Homo sapiens: one gene and its partner. The protein of the gene in region 1 purifies or fractionates together with the protein of each later gene. This does not show direct contact. Each region holds a gene or a part of one and is shown in the gene's direction. Other genes may lie near its edges.

The links.
Region 2: the proteins of FABP1 (region 1) and GNPNAT1 purify together in Homo sapiens (affinity purification with mass spectrometry; 2 studies listed by BioGRID and IntAct, with this or other methods). This does not show direct contact.

Annotation. Positions count from the first base shown.
Region 1 is NC_000002.12:88,122,482-88,125,062, reverse strand, and holds the end of FABP1 (fatty acid-binding protein, liver), read left to right. Parts: intron 1-476; coding exon 477-569; intron 570-1,958; coding exon 1,959-2,009; 3' UTR 2,010-2,081; downstream 2,082-2,581.
Region 2 is NC_000014.9:52,781,302-52,788,838, reverse strand, and holds part of GNPNAT1 (glucosamine 6-phosphate N-acetyltransferase), read left to right. Parts: intron 1-967; exon of another isoform or gene 968-1,006; intron 1,007-4,174; 5' UTR 4,175-4,188; coding exon 4,189-4,342; intron 4,343-5,353; coding exon 5,354-5,416; intron 5,417-6,927; coding exon 6,928-7,055; intron 7,056-7,537.

The DNA of each region.
Region 1 (2,581 bases):
TGAAGTGAAAGGACTGTTTGAGCCTAGGAGTTCAAGACCAGCCTGGGCAACATAGCAAGACCTCATCTCAATTAAAAAAAAAAAAAAAAGAAGAATACATACCAAAGCAAAATATGTATTCTCTACTGGTCAATATTTGAATTTTGCCACTACCTCCCTCCATTAGCTTGGGAGAATTGAGATTTTACTTGATTTGATTTTAGCATTTGTATTTGGGGCCACTTAGGTGTTCCATGCTCATTTCTAGATCACATGCCATGAATTAAAGTTCTGACAAAAGAAGTCGTGACATTTTATTTAGTTCTTAAATGCACCTCACTTCTATTTGGAGCCAGAGAACTAGAGGCTTGGGATCATAGGAACCAGAGCATTTTGGTTGTTATGAGCTGAGACCTGTGCAAAGGAAGCAACTTCATTAGCAAGGCTCTTGCCCCCCACCACCCCTTCCTCACAGGTCACCTCTCTGTTCCCTGCAGACAGTGGTTCAGTTGGAAGGTGACAATAAACTGGTGACAACTTTCAAAAACATCAAGTCTGTGACCGAACTCAACGGCGACATAATCACCAATGTAAGTTGGTGGTGCTCTGAGCGTGTGGCTCCCAGTGCTTGAGGGGAGAGGGGAGGTGAAGCATGGGGAGCGGCTCACATACCCTAATGCCACCCCTCCACCCTCCAACCCCCAAACTTCTTTCCTGTGGTCAGTATCTGCCAGCACTTACTGAGGATCCATCATGTCCCAGGCAGTTTACACACATTATCACTAATCCTTTCTGCTCAGCGCAACCAACCAGCCACAGAGGCCTCCACCTGCCCTGCATGCCCAGGGTGCTTCATAAATGCCTTTGCCCATTTAGCGTTTATAAAGAGAATCCCATTCATGGTCATATTATGGCAGCTTACAAGCCTGGCACAGTCCAGTTATGCAGTCAGCCTTGGTGCCTGGCTGCCAGCCACATCCTGTACCCTATTTGGGGGTGAATGGTGCAGTGTTTCTCCTGCAGGTATGTCCCCCTGACTCTTCTTTGCCCCCAGAATATGCTTTAGGGAGTCACAGACAACAGAACACTGCCTCAGGGCGCTGTCATCACTCTATTCAAATGGAAAAATTCTTAAACTAGAGAGAGTGTGAGCATCAACCACCCAATGTGCAGTTTCCACCTCCGCCCCAGCACATTCCCAGGAGAGCAGGGGAGCAGGAGATGAGCTATCCTGCAGTAAGTCCTGGCCAACGCCCTTTGATAGGTTCCATCTCACCTAATCCTCCTGTCTCCTTCGAGGGAGGCTGGATGAGGGATTCAATAGACAGGTTGACCTGTCCAAGTCATCAGCTAATAAATGTTAAATCCAGGGCTCAAACCCATCAAGCAGCAACTATTGCATTGCTGCTGAAACTGAGGGGCTCCTTTTCACCCTGATGACATGGTATGTCATTCCAGCAGTCTTATTCAAGAGAACTGGCAGGGGTGGAGGAAACATCCTTAAAAACTCAAAAGCTGATGCATCCACTGTTTTTATATGCTTCACAGCTATAGGAGGACAATTATGCACTACCCACTGCCTTCCAGGCTGTGTGCCTAGTTGTGTCCATGTACATGTATCCTTGGTGCTCAACATGTATTTGGTGCATAGTAGGTACTCAATGAAATTTTGAGAAATTAGATTGGGCTGGTTTGGATGGTCTTGCTATAACAGTCATTGATGTAGAAAAGAATTCAGTCAAAGGCAGGAGGACTTTCCAGGTGAGGAGGAGAAGTGACAAAGACTTGGCATAGGATTTTGGAAAACATTGCCAACCTTTCCTCCGGTCCTACAGGAAACCAGACGAATTTTTGAATTGTTTCATATGCCAACATATTTGGTGCTGTTTTTTAAGCTTAATTTTGTTTTTTATGCTTAATTTTGTTTTTTACAATACAACATCAGATGAACACTTCATAATTTCTTTTCTGGCTTTCAGACCATGACATTGGGTGACATTGTCTTCAAGAGAATCAGCAAGAGAATTTAAACAAGTCTGCATTTCATATTATTTTAGTGTGTAAAATTAATGTAATAAAGTGAACTTTGTTTTAAAAAAAAATGTCTTCTCAATGCCTTTTCATTGATGGTGCTATTGCTCACCATATTCTCGTAAATATACTTTCGTAAATGTTGATAATCCACATGATCCACACTACCAGGTCAAATCCGAAGAGTAATTCCCTGAACACAAAACCCATGCTGCACACCCAGGTGTTCTGCCAGGAAAGCCAGGTGTGGCTAGATCTGCAGGAAGGCCCTGGAATGCCCTTTCCCAGTCAGGCACACGGGCAAGGAGCTGGAGCCAGAGGATGTGCAGTGGGCTGGCCTTGAGGGTGCTCTCTGTGGGGACAGGGAGCAGGAAGACTGGGCAGAAAAGGAGAGCTATACCCACAAGCACAGCCACAGTACCAGCCCACCAGCAGACAGGTGCAGAAAGGTCGACACTGACCCGCCCAATAAACTTTTCCTCCTGTGGGAGGCTGAGCAAAGGGCTTAGTGAGAGGCGCCAGAAGTGGACAGAGGAGGCTCAGTGGAAGTTCCCTCCATGCTATGGGCAGG
Region 2 (7,537 bases), on another chromosome or scaffold:
TGTATACTTCTTCCCTCTCATGAAAATTATTAACCCTATTTTTCATGTTTTCTAGACCACATTTTTATTGTAAACACAGACAACTTTATAGGAAAAAGGAATCTAGTTAAATGTGGTTAAGGTTGATTTAAATTCTCTTTTGAGTTTTCTTTGAACTTTGTATTTACAACTATATGTTTAATAGCAAGACCAAAATGTTTAAATAGTGTGCTGCCTCGAGGAATTTACATTTTTAATACTGTACACATTTCACTTTATTAATACTTAGCCTGTTTATCTACATACCTGAAAAACAATGTTGCTACCTACCATTCAGATGAGATTACACACAAAAACCTCAAGGGTCCAATTTAGACAAAACACTAAAACACGTGGACTCAATTTCATCTATTAAAAACTTGTTTTGGCTGAGCATGCTGGTTCACACTTGTAATTCCAGAACTTTGGGAGGCTGAGGCTGGAGGATCACTTGAGGTCAGGAGTTCAAGACCAGCCTTTCCAACATGGCAAAGCCCCATCTCTACTAAAAATACAAAAATTAGCCAGGCGTGGTGGTATGAGCCTGTAGTCACAACTACTCTGGAGGCTGATGTGGGAAGCTGAGGTAGGAGGATCACTTGAGCCCAGGAGTTTGAGGCTGCAGTGAGCTATGATTGCACCACTGCACTCCAGCCTGGGCAACAGAGTAAAACCCTGTCTCAAAACAATAAAACAAAACAAAAAACCTATTTTGAATGGCTATTAAACTTGTTAAATTTGAAATGACTGCTTGATCATCACAATTTCTATATTTTCCTTAATATTGTTAGAACTGGGTATAGTGTATGCAGCATAATTTGAATCATTTTGTGTGTGTGTGGCTGGGGGGACCTCTCAGCAGTCTACATTATAAACTACGTTCTTTTCTACCCAAGAATGCTAACTTTTGGTATAACATAAACGTAAGAGCCTGTCATTCTTTTTGTAGTTCCTGTAACCAGCACAGTGCCTGATTCATGAATTAAAGGTAAAAAAAAATGAACAAGAATTTATAAACTTTAATTTTAAATTTATTGCTAACTAGCATATATCTTATTAAGTACTTGCAGTATTCCAGGCACTGCTAAGTGCATGACTGCATACAGTAATGCATTTAATTCTCCCAGTAATTTCATCTCCATTTTACAAATGAGGAAACTAGATTCTAAAAGCTTAATTACCGTAGTACATATCACACAGTTGACATTTGAACACCAGGTATGAATCCAAAGCTCATGCTCTTTCTATGCCTAGGTTTAAATCCTGGCTCCGCTAATTTTGTGACCTTGGGCAAGTTACTTAACATTTTCTCATCTGTTAAAATGTAGATAATAACCACTCCTAACCTGTAGGATGGTTGAAATAAATGAATTAGTAAAGCTCTTTCAACAGTCTGGCACATAAGAAGTGCTGAGCAAGTGTTAACTTCTGTTGTTACATCACATCACACTACCTTCCCATAACTAGTATATTGCAGCATTGCTTATATAGTTACATAGGATTATACAGGCAGAAACTTATTATCCATCTTTAAGGAAAAGTTAAGAATATTTGCCCTAAAGCATACTGTGACTTATGAAATAAGGAACAATTGGGGGTTAGGTTATTGGGCAAATTGTTCTCTCATTAAAATATGGTTTCTTTAACTGGATATAGAAATAAGTTGGGGACTGCTTTTTTTGGATCTCTAATCCAAAAATCCAAAACACTCCAAAATTTGAAACTTTATTGAGGGCCAACATGATGCCACAAGTGGAAAATTCCACATCTGGTATAATGTACAAAAACTTTTCCATGCACAAAATTATTTAAAATATTGTGTAAAATATTTGTGCTATCTGTATAAGATGTATATGAAACACAAATGAATTTTGACTTGGGTCCCATCCCCAAGATATCTCATTATGTATATGCAAATATCCCCAAATCTGAAAAAAAAAAAAAAAAAAAAAAAAAAAAAAAATCCAAAACCTGAAACATTTCTGGTCCCAAGCATTTTGGATAAGGAATACTCAACTTTTAATTGTTGGGAAGCATCTGTTTCTTTTAGCAATTCTGTGCTGCACAGAAGCCCCCTGGCCCCAGTTTTATGCTTTGTATGATTTGTTTTTCATCCTTCCTATCGTTACTTCTCTGTTATTTAGTCTCAGTTTTAAAACATTACAACTAGTGAGAACCTGCTCATTTCTAAATGTTCAAAAAAGAGGGGGAAATATCATGATCACTTTTCAATAGCATGAAAAACACCAGCTATTTTTAAGCTGCTTAGATGCAACTGAGAAACACTATACAGTTTAATTTTAATTTAATTTTTTTGAGACGGAGTTTCACTCTTGTTGCCCAGGCTGGAACGCAATGGTGTGATCTCAGCTCACTGCAGCCTCCACCTCCTGGGTTCAAGTGATTCTCCTGCCTCAGCCTCCCAAGTAGCTGGGATTACAGGTGGCCACCACCACACCTGGCTAATTTTGTATTTGTAGTAGAGACAGGGTTTCGCCATGTTGGTCAGGCCGGTCTTGACCTCCTGACCTCTGGTGATCTACCTGCCTCTGCCTCTCAAAGTGCTGGGATTAAAGGCACGAGCCACCATGCCTGGTCCATACCACAGATTTTTAGAAAATCTGCTGTGAAAACAAAATCCTGCAGTGTATATCTAGCATAGCCAAGGTAAAGTATTTCTGAGAATGCCAAAAAAAAAAATTAATTTGAGCCTGTTCATCAATTTTCTTCTATTCATGGTTCATTGAAAAAAAAAAAAAAAGCTACATGTGGCTAGACATGGTGGCTCACACCTGTAATCCCAGCACTTTGGGAGGCTGAGGCAGGCGAATCACCCGAGGTCAGGAATTTGAGACCAGCCTGGCTGACATGGCGAAACTCCGTCTCTACTAAAAATACAAAAAAAACTAGCTGGGCGTGGTGGCAGGTGCCTGTAATCCCAGCTACTCAGAAGGCTGAGGCAGGAGAATTGCTTAAACCTGGGAGGCGGAGGTTGTGGTGAGCCAAGATCACATCATTGCACTCCAGCCTGGGCAATAAGAGCGAAACTCCATCTCAAAAAAAAAAAAAGGCTACATGCCCAGTAAGTTTTTTGAGAGGGAATTTCACTCTTACATTGCCCAGGCTGGAGTGCAATGGCGCAATCTCAACTCACCACAACCTCTGCCTCCCAGGTTCTGAGGCGATTCTCCTGCCTCAGCCTCCCGAGTAGCTGGGATTACAGGCATGCGCCACCACGCCCGACTAATTTTGTATTTTTAGTAGAGATGGGGGTTTCTCCATGTTGGTCAGGCTGGTCTCGAACTCCCGACCTCAGGTGATCTGCCCACCTCGGCCTCCCAAAGTGTTGGTATTACAGGTGTGAGCCACCGTGCACAGCTGAAAGTTTTCTTTATTGGCAAGTAAGACTAAGAGATTACTTTTTTAAAAAAAATTTTTTTCCCCTTGCAATTTCCTGTTGAAACAGATGCCTTCTTGGCTCAATAATAAAATCCAAGAACATAATGTAAAAAATTTAAGAGCCCATGAAAAGTCAGCTATTCATTTAGTAGCACCAACCCAGAGGAAAAACATGTTTTAAAAGACCTGATAATAGCCGGGCGCAGTGGCTCACGCCTGTAATCCCAGCACTTTGGGAGGCCGAGGCGGGCAGATCACCTGAGGTCGGGAGTTTGAGACCAGCCTGGCTAACACGGCGAAATCCCGTCTCTATTAAAAATACAAAAAAATTAGCCGGGCGTGGTGTCACGTGCCTATAATCCCAGATACTCAGGAGGCTGAAAGAGGAGAATCACTTGAACCCAGAAGGCAGAGGTTGCAGTGAGCCGGGATCACGCCTCTGCACTCCAGCCTGGGCAACAGAGTGAGACTGTCTGAAAAAAAAAAAAAAAAAAAGACTTGATAATAAATGGGATTTTATAGTTTAAAACTTACTAATTTAGTCACTTAGCCATTTTTTTATCTGATAGTAGGCATGATTTTTCTATTTATCTGTAGTTGTGGAATTTAATGTTAGATTCAGGCTGGGTTGCAGTAAAATATCTCGCATATGTGCTAAAGAATGCTTCTAATTGCATTAATTTATATTAACTTTCTCAACAATCATAATTTTCCTTCTATTAAATAAAGTGACTTAATATTCAAATTTTTATTTTAGACCTTACTAGAAAAATGAAACCTGATGAAACTCCTATGTTTGACCCAAGTCTACTCAAAGAAGTGGACTGGAGTCAGAATACAGCTACATTTTCTCCAGCCATTTCCCCAACACATCCTGGAGAAGGCTTGGTTTTGAGGCCTCTTTGTACTGCTGACTTAAATAGAGGTAATGTACAAAATCCTGTGTAAAATTAGAGTTAGCCTTCCATTTTTCTCTAAACATTATGATGCAGATAATTTTTTTTAAATATTTGACTTTTGGACTATTTTTTGTATAATACTTAGTTTTTAAAGTGATGGACACTCAATACCAATGAGTGTGTGTCATGGCTAAGACCAAATATTACTGTGAAATATTTAAAATGACTTAAATACAACATCACTCCTTCCTAATTAAGCCAAAAAGATTTCTCATAAACAAAAATTAAATTATCATGTATGATGACACATAAGGAGGGATCTTAAGAAGCTGGTTGGGGAATGAAGGTGGAAATAATTTTCCTTGGATAAATTGAAAGGGTTTTTATACAGTTATTTCTTTTTTAACATCTAAATTCTCCAAGTTAACTTCCTTAAACTTTGGTAATTAAAAGTCAACTTTGTCCTTTTCACAATTATCTCTTTGCTAGACAGCCTGAAGGGCCTAATTTTGGCCTAATTATTGAGTGTAGGAAAGTTAAGATTTTCAAAATTCCAGGTGCACTGTTCACATCAATTTCCGGTAACACTAATGAAATTCACTAGAAATTACAATTTTAAAGAGTGTAATCTCAACAGTGTTACTTATACTTTAATTTACGAATATTGTATTTAGCCATGTTGCACCTTTAAGTAAAACCAAATCACATATTTGGGAAAATCTGGCACCCTTTGCATTGAACTTAATGTAAAATATAATACATTGAAGAATGTATGTTCTGGGTCTATAAATACTGGATATTAAGGTCAGCACTATTTAAAACATCTTATGCAGGCAGAAGCACTGGTAAAACCTGTTATTTTTGTTATATGTAGTGATTATAGAAGAATAGGGTTCACTTTATTCTAATAATTAAAAGATTATAGAAAGTTCTGAAAAAATAATTGCCTGTAAGCCCACCTGCTTAATATATTGCTTATTTTCATACTGTCTTCCTTTTGCTATTCTCGTAATTTGAAATCTGTTTTTCAAAACTAGGTTTTTTTAAGGTATTGGGTCAGCTAACAGAGACTGGAGTTGTCAGCCCTGAACAATTTATGAGTAAGTACTATAACCTCTTTTTCCTGAAATAAAGGGAAACATGATTTCATTTTTGTTTAGAGCTGTTCAGTGCCCACTTCTGTTTTTGTTCAAATAGCTGGAAATTATTCAAAGAACAAATTAGCTGTTTTATACAAATGTTTAATGTGGCTGAGTTGTTCTAGAATCCAAATGTACCAGTAACTTTGTTTTTGCAAACTATCTGACTACTTTATTAGATAATTATTGTACCATAGGACCTAGGTGTTAGCTCTAGAGGTTTTTCGTTTTTTTATTGTAGTATTTCCCTTACTGTGGTTATTTACAGAAATTTCATTACCAAATCAAAAAAGCAAGACTATACGCTTTAAATTTATTTTGGGGTTTATTTGTATTGAAGTTTAAGGTTAGCAGGCATCTTAAGAGTTAGTCCACCCGTCCCCTGCCCCTCTTCTTTTAGACATAGGAGAAAATAGGAATTTAGAGAGATCCAAAGACTTGCCCAAGATCACAGGTAGTTATTGCTACGGTGAGGAATAAAACCTTAATTCTGTCCAGTGCTCTACCACTGCTTTTTCCTGTTATAAAGGAAATGAAGTATTATTATCATTACTAAATATTTAGTAATATTTAATAGCTGAGGAATTACAATTCTTCATTTCCTTATAATAGGGAATTTTGTATTGAATTCTATTTGACCCTCCTGAGAATGAGGACCATCATTCTGATTCTCATTGTTTATTTTCATTCACTGAATTTCTTTTTCCCATTTTAGATCTCTATCTGGAATGAGACCATAGAAATTAACAATATGAGAGACTATTAGCCTCAATTTTTATTCCTGAATTTTTCTTTGCATGCACATGAATTAGATGAGAAACCATGTTATTTCAGCAATAGTACTGAAAATCCATTTGAGGGGAAGTATCTTTGCACCTATTTGCTATGTGACTTGGAAAAGTTACTTGGAAACAGATATGTTTTTACTTCCTTGCAAGGTGCTCTCAAAGCAAACAAGAGCAAGTCATGTTATCACAAAACACTTTCCATCACAAAGGGAAAATTAAAATATATTTTGTAAAAATATTTTGAAAGCAAAAGACTAAAAATTCTAGAATTGAGCCATGTAAACATGCTCTTGTTAAAATGTGCAAAGGTTATATTTGAATATCTATTGAGTATAAAAGTTAAAGAGATCTATTTAAAGTAAATGAAGAAATTGAAGTTTTCATTAGTCATGGAAGTGGCAACATCAGCCATTTACTTGTATTTTAAGTGTTGTTCATCTAAAATAGCTATATTAGTCTTTATTTTGCTAGCAGATATTTTGAATGTGTAGGTTATATTCCAATTGATACTAATTGCTGATATTTCAACTACTTGGTAATATTTTCTTTAGAAATGGAAGGTAAATTACTATGGTAAAACAGCTTTAAACATTTAGTAATTAAGTCAGCTAATCCTAATATTTTTCTGGCTCCCCATAAAATTGAATGTCTACTATGTAACACTTTGTTATCCAATTTCCACAGAATCTTTTGAGCATATGAAGAAATCTGGGGATTATTATGTTACAGTTGTAGAAGATGTGACTCTAGGACAGATTGTTGCTACGGCAACTCTGATTATAGAACATAAATTCATCCATTCCTGTGCTAAGGTATGTGCTGCTTATAAATAAAATGGACAGCTGTTTTCTAGCACAACTGACTTTGAGTTTCCATTAGACAAATCTGTTTTCTCATTGATTTTCAGTGCCTCTTAGAAATCCCTTTTCCCAGTGTGTTCTGAGAGCTTTAAGAAAGAAAATGTATAACAGTATGAATTGTATGCTAAAATTGTTCTGTAAGGTGGATCAATTTGGTATAGGCATAGAGAAACCAAACAACTTAGCAGTAATGCACAAAATCCCTAATGTTACTCTTTTAAAAAAAACAACTCTGAATATACCACGTTAGCATAAATTTGTTTCCACATGGTAAAGGGTTCAGATTATTCCGTTCTAATTATGATACATCTAATGCATGTAGTGCCCTTTCATCCCTCAATAACTCACATAAAATAGTAAATAAAAAAAGAGGGAGAGAAAACCTTAATTCAATGAGAATAAGGTAGGAACACTTGGGATGTGTTCTGTCACAC